2 linked regions of the Homo sapiens genome follow. The protein of the gene in region 1 interacts with the protein of each later gene in a pairwise test. Each region holds a gene or a part of one and is shown in the gene's direction. Other genes may lie near its edges. The genes, in order: PER2 and TPTEP2-CSNK1E.

The links.
Region 2: the proteins of PER2 (region 1) and TPTEP2-CSNK1E interact in a two-hybrid assay, tested with the Homo sapiens proteins (one large-scale study listed by BioGRID).

What each region holds. Positions count from the first base shown.
Region 1 is NC_000002.12:238,261,086-238,264,887, reverse strand, and holds part of PER2 (period circadian protein homolog 2), read left to right. Parts: intron 1-1,829; coding exon 1,830-1,936; intron 1,937-2,543; coding exon 2,544-2,697; intron 2,698-3,050; coding exon 3,051-3,159; intron 3,160-3,802. UniProt on the Homo sapiens protein: Transcriptional repressor which forms a core component of the circadian clock.
Region 2 is NC_000022.11:38,395,955-38,400,464, reverse strand, and holds the start of TPTEP2-CSNK1E (casein kinase I), read left to right. Parts: upstream 1-1,549; 5' UTR 1,550-2,027; intron 2,028-4,510.

The sequences.
Region 1 (3,802 bases):
TAGGAGCATCACTTGAGGCCAGGAGTCTGAAACCAGCCTGTTTGAAACCAGGAGTTCAAAACGTAGCAAGACCCTGTCTCTGCAAAATAAAATAAAAATTAGCTGGGTGTGGTGGTGTGCACCTGTAGTCCCAGCTACTCAGAGGCTGAGGCAGGGGGATCACTGAGCCTAGGAGTTCAAGGCTACGGTGAGCTATGATTGCACCACTGCACTCCAGCCTAGGTCACAGCAAAAGACCCTGTCTCAAAAAAATAGAAAGAAAAAAAATGTGTGGGCCACTGGCAGTAGTCACCGAAAAGTGACCTCAGAAGATACCACAGGAAGTGGACCAAGAAGCACCAGTGTGCTGGGTTCCTAAAATGAACCAGGTCACCTAGAAGCTGGAGGATCAAGACCTCTCCCTCCTCTACTCTTGGCCCAGGGACACAGGCCCCCATCCTTGGAGTCAGGGCCACACAGCTTCCTGGGGAGGCTCTATGGGTAAAAAGGGATCCGTCACTTCCAGCTCCAGGTGGCTCAGGTGTGTCCGCGGGGCTGCCTGGGGCAGAGCCAGTTTGCAGATGCAGGCTTCTGGACACCACCCTGCCCTGTGGAACCAGGATCTTGGAGGGCAGGGCCTGGGGCCGTATATGTAAAGCAGCCTCTGGAGACTTTTCTTCCTTCAGAGATCTGAGAACTGTCTCTAACCCACTCCCATGCCAACTTGGTGTCCAGCTCAGCCCTGTGCAGGGAGGTTGGCAGACAGGTTCACCTGGCATGATGGGCCACAGCCTGCAAGCTCTCCTTGATGAAGCCTTGTGTGTGGCCTGGCTCACAAAGCCCAAGGACAGCCAGGGCTCCCCCTCCTCCTCCCCTCCTTCTTTTCACCCTCCACCCCCTTTCTGCTCCCTCCTCTTCCTCCTCCCCCTCTTTTTCCTTCCTGTTCCCCCACTCCTCTCCTCTTCCTTCCTCTTCTTCCTCCTTCAGCAAGGCCTTGATGGGACGGATGCCAGGAACATTCTGTATATCCTGTCCAAAGGAAAACATGAGGCCTGAAGAGAGAGCCTCAGACAAGAAGGAGGAAATCAAAGAATAACGCCAGGCCCTTGAGAAAGTTCTGCACCATGGTCTAAAGATTCACAGGGAAAATCCTTCTACACAAGCAGCAGAGTTTGAGGAAACATTGGTTTGGATGCAACAAGTGTTAAGAGGCAGATCGGGAGAAGAAATGGTCGGTGGAGCCGGCAGAGGGCGCTGGACACAAACAGAAGCAGAAGGTGCTGCTGAAGTTCAGCTCCGTCCTGCAATGGAGCAAAGCCACAGCTCTGGGAGGAGGCATGAGCTCAAAGGGCAGAGGCCCAGCCAGCCACCGAGACTCCAAAGAAGCCACAGTAAACCAACTGGATGCTGAGGCCAAAGTCACACGAGACCAGGCTGGAAAAGAAGCACATACAAAGGGTTTTCCGAGGCCCAGGCAAAACTTGTTAAGCAAAAATCCATGCCAGGTCACATGTGGCCAAACTAATGAATGACACTGAAAAAGAAAAAGATGCTGGAAGGAAGAAAACAAAAGCATGATCATGACTTATCTCTTGGGAGGTGAAACGCAGAGCTGAAGCACTCAGGCCCCAGCAGAGGGAGCCTCCTTCAGCGTCCTGGACAGTGAACCTTCGTTTGCTATTGATTAAAAGTCTAGCTGGTTCTGTTAGTCCAACTTTTGATCTCCGGGGGTGGGGGAGGGGGTGGGGTTTGGAGTGTATCTTCTCTTTCCAGGGAATAAGATGGTTCTTAGTGACAATCTCCTCATCTGTTTGGATGCCAATCCTAGCGTGTGTCTGCTTGCCTTCCAGGGCGGTCCCTCTCCTGGGCTACCTACCTCAGGACCTGATTGAAACCCCAGTGCTCGTGCAGCTCCACCCTAGTGACAGGCCCTTGATGCTGGCCATCCACAAAAAGAGTAGGTCCCCTTTTCATGGTACATCCTGAAGTGTTTGGCGGAAGTTCCTGTGTCCTTGGGGCTGCTTCTTGGGACCAGTCTAGCTCTGACAGGTCAGATCAGCTAAGGACAAGCAGGTGGTAGACGCCCGCCTCGCCGCCTCCCTCCTGGCACTGCAGTGCCCAGTGGAGTCGAGAGAGAGGGGTAAACTCATGTGAGTTCCTTTGTGGCCAGTTGTTTCTCAGTCCGTGGCCTGAGTCCGTAGCATCTTATGTTTACTGTTGGCTTCAGTGGCGCATGGGAGGAGGGGAGACCAGTTCATCTGTGGCTAGGAAGGTTCTCACCAGGCCAGGGGAGTGCACAGTGCATGTCCTCACCAAGCCCAGCCCTCATAGATGCAAGTGACACTAGCAGAGGTGAAACATGGGATGAAACAGCTCCTGCTGGAAACAGCCTCCTGGTAATCTACAGCAAAAACAGGAGGTTGAAAGCAGTGGCTTTGAAGAAGTGTTCATACCCCTACAGTTTGCAAATGATCCTGGGCCTGAGTGACTCTTGACTTGTCTCTCTCTACTATAAATCCTGTTTGCTCCCCTTTTCCCCTGAATGCTGGCTTTTGCTCTCCTAGTCCTGCAGTCAGGCGGGCAGCCTTTCGACTATTCTCCCATTCGGTTTCGCGCCCGGAACGGAGAGTACATCACGTTGGACACCAGCTGGTCCAGCTTCATCAACCCATGGAGCAGGAAAATCTCCTTCATCATTGGGAGGCACAAAGTCAGGGTGTGAGTGCTCCAAGGGCCCGAGGTGGCTCAGGGGTCTTGGGCGGGGGTCTCGGGCTGTCCTCACCTCCCAGCAACAGATGGCATAGGGAGGGGCTGAGAGGCCAAGACCGAAACCTTGCTTCCTGCCACCAATCTGGAGCCCCAGACTGCTAGGCAGGGGTGACCTGTCCTCTGCCCCCAAGTGGGAGGGACCTCATTCAAGCAGAGTAGGGAGTGGACAGGCAGCAGCCTGGGGGGCTGCAGGGGAGAGGCAGAGGGCCCACCCAGGCAGGCAGCATGTAGTGGCTATACAGTCACGCCAGAGAGGTCCTCCTGTGGGGCCCCATCTAACAAGATGAATTAAAACCACGCAGGGGCCCTTTGAATGAGGACGTGTTTGCAGCCCACCCCTGCACAGAGGAGAAGGCCCTGCACCCCAGCATTCAGGAGCTCACAGAGCAGATCCACCGGCTCCTGCTGCAGGTGGGTGTGGTGCCTGCATGTCCTCCTCCCAGGTAGCAGCCTGAGAGCCCCCTGCAGAGGACATAGGCTCTGAACCCTGGTCCTGGCACACCCACTCAGACAGCTTCATCTGTCATTCTCTGAACATCCCCCAGGGGACAGTTTGGGCATAGACTGTGCTAGTCCGAGACAGTCCATAGTACCCTTGGCTCTCTCCAGCCTTGCATTCGACCTTGTCTGAACTGCAGCCCTGAGTGAGTAGCTGAAGGACGTGTGCAGACCCCGTGCTCTGACACAGGCTGCATAGTTCCAGAGTGACCTCTCAGTGGTGCGGGGGCTCATTCTAATCCAGAGCAGTGGGACTTAAGGGAGGGACATTGTACTCAAGGTCCCTAAAAAAAATCAGGCCCACTGCAGTCAACCCCACACCTGAGTAGGCGCCTGCCTGTCAGTTCCCGGAGACTGTGGAGTGAAGCTGTCATCGCATCTTGTTTGTTTTAAACCCATCCACAGAGGCGTGGCTGGCTGCAGCCATGCGTTGATGAGCGGGTTGGACACATTCCTTTGGTGCCGTCTCCTCGGTGACTGCATGTCTGGGTCGGGGCACCGCGGCTGGAGGCCAGGAGTCTACCTCTGGAGCTGACCCTGGGGTTCAAACCTCAGC
Region 2 (4,510 bases), on another chromosome or scaffold:
TATCCATTAACATGTAGAATGAGGCTACACTTAAAGGCTCAACCTGGTTGCACTTGTTCATAGTTTCTTTGTTGTGTAGCAAGGCTCATAGTCATTTGTTTTCATAAAGTTAAATGAAGTTTCTTGTTTATGAAGTGTTTTTGGACTGTGTTTTAGAATGTGACAATAAGATTAAAAAATATATTTTAAAGATAGGTATTCATCTTTTGTCAGAAAAGGACTCCTAATACTAAAAGTGATCAATATCAGTGGACTTGAGTGAAAAAAAATTCACCCAATTTAGTTTTTTAGTGCTGGCCTAAGAATCTACCGGCACTGCTAATTAATTGTGAGTAATTGATTGGCTTCCTTTTTAAAAAAGACTAACCAGACCATATGGGGGGTTAGTAGTTATATATAAAATGACAGCAAAACATGACACTTGGCAAATTCTTCCCCTTTGCTGAGCTGTCTTCTCAAATTCCTTTTCCTATTTATTAAGATTGCATTGCTCACCAGCTCCGGATCGTTTCTGTAGTGCGTTCTTTCTTTTGATTTAGGAAATAGATATTTTAAATGCTTTTCTTGATGTGTTTTAAAGTTTTTTCATTTTGGATATGCCGAAGGCCAGTAAAAAAACAAATATTTGGCTATTTTGTTGGTAGCGACTTGCATAGATCCATTTCACATTTGCATTAGTTTGCATTTTGGGGTAGAAAAATTGTGGATATGTTTGTTATGTCTGTGGTTCCTCGAGGCTTACTTAAAATGGGGAAATATCACAGGCCTTAGGAATCAGGATTTTTTTTGTCCTTTTTTTCAGTAAGAAAAAAAAAACAGTTGGGAAACGATTTAAATGAGTTGTGCGTAGGGAGGAGGGGAAAGGGTAGCGGTTTTTTGTTTTTTTTTGTCCCCGGTTTCCTCCAAATGGATTTCTATCAAAACCAAGTAGATTCTTGGAACCTAGTCTAAGTTTAGAAATCTCAAGTTAGAATAGCGCAAGCCCAGTCCTTTCAGAAAAAAAAAAATCAGAACAATTAAATAGCTTTCTGAAGATACTCATTTAAAAACTTTATCTTCTCGACCTTCCTCACGCTTGAAGAAAATCTGAGGTGTTTTTCGCGCACAGCTGCCTTCTAACCCGCGAGCAACGGCGTTAAGGTTTTGTTTGTAATTCGGGGTGACCCAGGAGTTCGGGCCGCGGGCCCCTCCCCTCGCCCGGGCACACCTTGCAGAGGAGGGGGCGGCGGGGACGGGACCCGGGTCTGCGCCTGCGCACACCCTCGCGGCCCCCCCCGCCCCCCCCGCCGGGTACCTGTCACGGCTACCGCCGCGGCGCTCGCCCGCCACGTTAAATCGGATGGCGGGAGTAGGGGTATGGGGCGGGGGGCGCGGGGAGGGTGGCACGGCGCGTGCGTGCGCGGGAGTCGCCGAGCGATAACTGGGAGTGCGCGCGCTCGCCGCTCGCTCGCGTCCCGGAGGCGGAGTCTGTGGCGGGGGGCGGAGCGGGGGCGGGCCTATGCTAGTCACGTGGGCGCGGGGGCGGGGTGGGGCGGGGCGGGGCGTCTCCGAGCGGCGGGCCGAGGGAGGGCGCAGCAGCTGCTCCCTGAACACTTTCTGACCCAACAGTCCCCCAGCGCCGGACGCGCCGCGCCCTGGCGGCTCTAGGGACCCCCCCCGCGCCTGCACTTAGCCCCGCGCCCGAGGTGAGCCCGGCCCCTAAATCCTCCGGGCGGGGGTGGGGGTGCGGGACGCTCCTTTTTTGTTGGGGGTCTTGGAGGCGCGAAGGCACTAGGCGCCTCGGCAGATGGCTGCACCCCTCGCTTGCGGCTCCCCGTGTCTTTTGGGGGGCCGGGTGCGGGCGCGGAATCCGGGAGGTGTCCGCACAAAAGGCCGAGAAAACTGCGCGAGGCCTCCCTCCCTCCGCCCTCCCCGCCCCCTCCCCTCCGCGCCCGCTCCTCCTCTTTCAAACCCGGCCGGCCCGAGTGGAGTCAGCTCAGTCCCGGCAGCCGCCGCGCGAGGAAATGGCCGAGGGGCCGGAGCCACAGGTAAAGGGGGGCGCCCCCCGCCCGCGCCAGCCGGGGCGCCCGCCTGGTCCTGCGGAGGCTCCCGCGCCGCCCCCGAGGCGCCCGGCTCTCGTTGTCTTGTCCCCCCCCAGGATGACCTCAGTTCCCCGTCTCAGCTTTCTAGCTGCTCTTTCTAGGGCGCCCCCTCCCCAGCCGGCTCCTGCGCTTCCGCTGGCGGGAAGGTGCGGGCGATCCCGGGCTGCATCCGCTCTTGGCCGTCACACTCACGCCGCACGATTCAGAAGGGCTTGGGGTGCGGGGTTCCCTGAATCTCCGCCGGGAGCGGGGGTCCGGGGGTCTGCGGGGGTGGGCGGTGGGGGGCTGTTCCGAAAAGTTGGGTCGCCCCGCGGGGCGGGTCTCCCAATTTGCCCAGTCGGCCCTTGGGGCGCGGGCGGAGGGGGGACGTTGGCGTAGGGTCCCCCGCGATACCCCGGGAAGGGCCGGGGGAAGTTGGAAATGGCCAAAACAATGCGTCGGGACAGGCTTCCCCCGTAAACAATGGCCGGGACGGTCCACACGGGCCAGGCGGAGGGCGCGTCTAAGGGACCGCGGGAGGGGCTGGGCCTCTCCGCGGACCCCGAGGTGCGCCGGGTGACTCCCTCGGGTGCCCAAAAATCTGTCCCCGGGAGTCCTGGGGCGCCTGCTTATCCCTGAGCAGGGATGCACGGGGCTGCGTTTCCTGGATGTGTGCGATAAGGTGGCTTTTTTTTCCCTCCTCTAATTTTAAAGATTTTTCTTAAGTCTTAATGTTCTATAAACACTTAAAGAATATCTTTACAACTCAATTGTAGTGGAACACCCAAAGGCAGCTGGAAGCAGAACTGGGAACTCTAAAGGGCAGGAAGGATTGAAATGCTAGCCCAAAAGTGCTGCTGCTTTTTTTTTTTTTCTTTTCTTTTTTTAAAGGGAAGTTTCTGCCAGGAGGTGCCAAGTGGTGAAACCGCTCAGTTTCAGGCACAGCCCTCTTGTCTCTCGATTTGGCCCCGACTGCGAGCCGGACGGGATGGTGGAGGGGCGGAGGGCGCTGCTGGGGGCCTGGGAGGCTGGATTTAGGGCTGCCTGGGCGGTACCGCCCGAGGGGCAAGACCCGACAGCGGGGCGCGCGCCGCAACGTAAGTCCCGGGGATTTGAGAAGACGTTCAGGGCCTGGGTTGGAATCCACATTTTGGGATTCTGGGTAGGGCCACCGAAGACGGGAAGGCGCATTCTTGGGCGGATGGGGTGAGCAGGCGGGGAGTTTTCCGCCAGGTTTAGTTACAGGAGCTAGAAAAGGCCACTTCTGGGACCCTGGCATCTGGGCCACCCTGAGAGCCCCAGAAACTTTTTTTTCTTTTTCTTTCCCCCCCACCCCCCAGAAAAGGATAGTCATTTCAGGTTTAAGGCTTTGGTGTATTGTTCCACTTCGAAATTCCTTGAGCCTCAGTTTATCTTCCTGAATCAGCCTATGGTGCTTGCAGCGGAGAAAGTAAATGGCGGTTGCAGTGGTCCACTGGCCAGTTTGGGGGTCCTGTATAATTGGCCACTGTGTGTGTCAGGCCTCTGAGCCCAGGCCAGGCCATTGCTCACACAAAGCTTGTTTGGTGGTCTCTTCACACGGACGTGTATGAAATTTGGTGCCGTGACCCCAACCCTTAAGAAGGTTGTTTGTAATTCTCCCCACCCTTGAGAATGTACTTTGTGAGATCCACCCCTGCCCACCAGAGAACAACCCCCTTTGACTGTAATTTTCCATTACCTTCCCAAATCCTATAAAATGGCCCCACCCCATCTCCCTTTGCTGACTCTTTTCGGACTCAGCCCGCCTGCACCCAGGTGAAATAAACAGCCATGTTGCTCACACAAAGCCTGTTTGGTGGTCTCTTCACACGGACGCATATGAAAGTGTGTCCTACAGCGTAGCTAGGTTTCTTAGTTTTCTAGATCGTTTGGAAGCATTAAGCTGTATGTTTTAAGAAGCCTAGGTCTGATTTAGTTCAGATTGATTCAATAATGTCTTCATCGCTTTTGAGTTGGTTGAATGACTTGACATGAGATTAAGCTCAACAAAAGAAAAGGTGAGGTAGCAACAGCTGCCGTCCAGGCCTGGCCACTAGGTAGGGGTCTTAGGAGGCCTTTTACCTTCTCTTTTGTATATGTCAAGAGGGACATTTACAATGTTCTTATTTTACTGTACTTCTTTCCCCTGAAGTGGATGTTCTTTCTTGATTGATATCAAACAAGACTTAAAATGCTAAGTTTTATGATACTTAGACAATGAGTAATAGATGTAGTTTCTAAAAGCCTTTATGTGTCTGCAGTGACAAGTGCAGAGGAATAACCTCATTGCTTTTTGTCTGAAAATATAACAGGCAAGCCACTAGTTTGTGCTTACTTAATGTGTGCTAAGAACTTTTAAGGTATGTCCTTAATGGTAGATAACTTTTTTCCTTCTGAGAAGTCATATTTATTTTAGATATTGTTTTGTT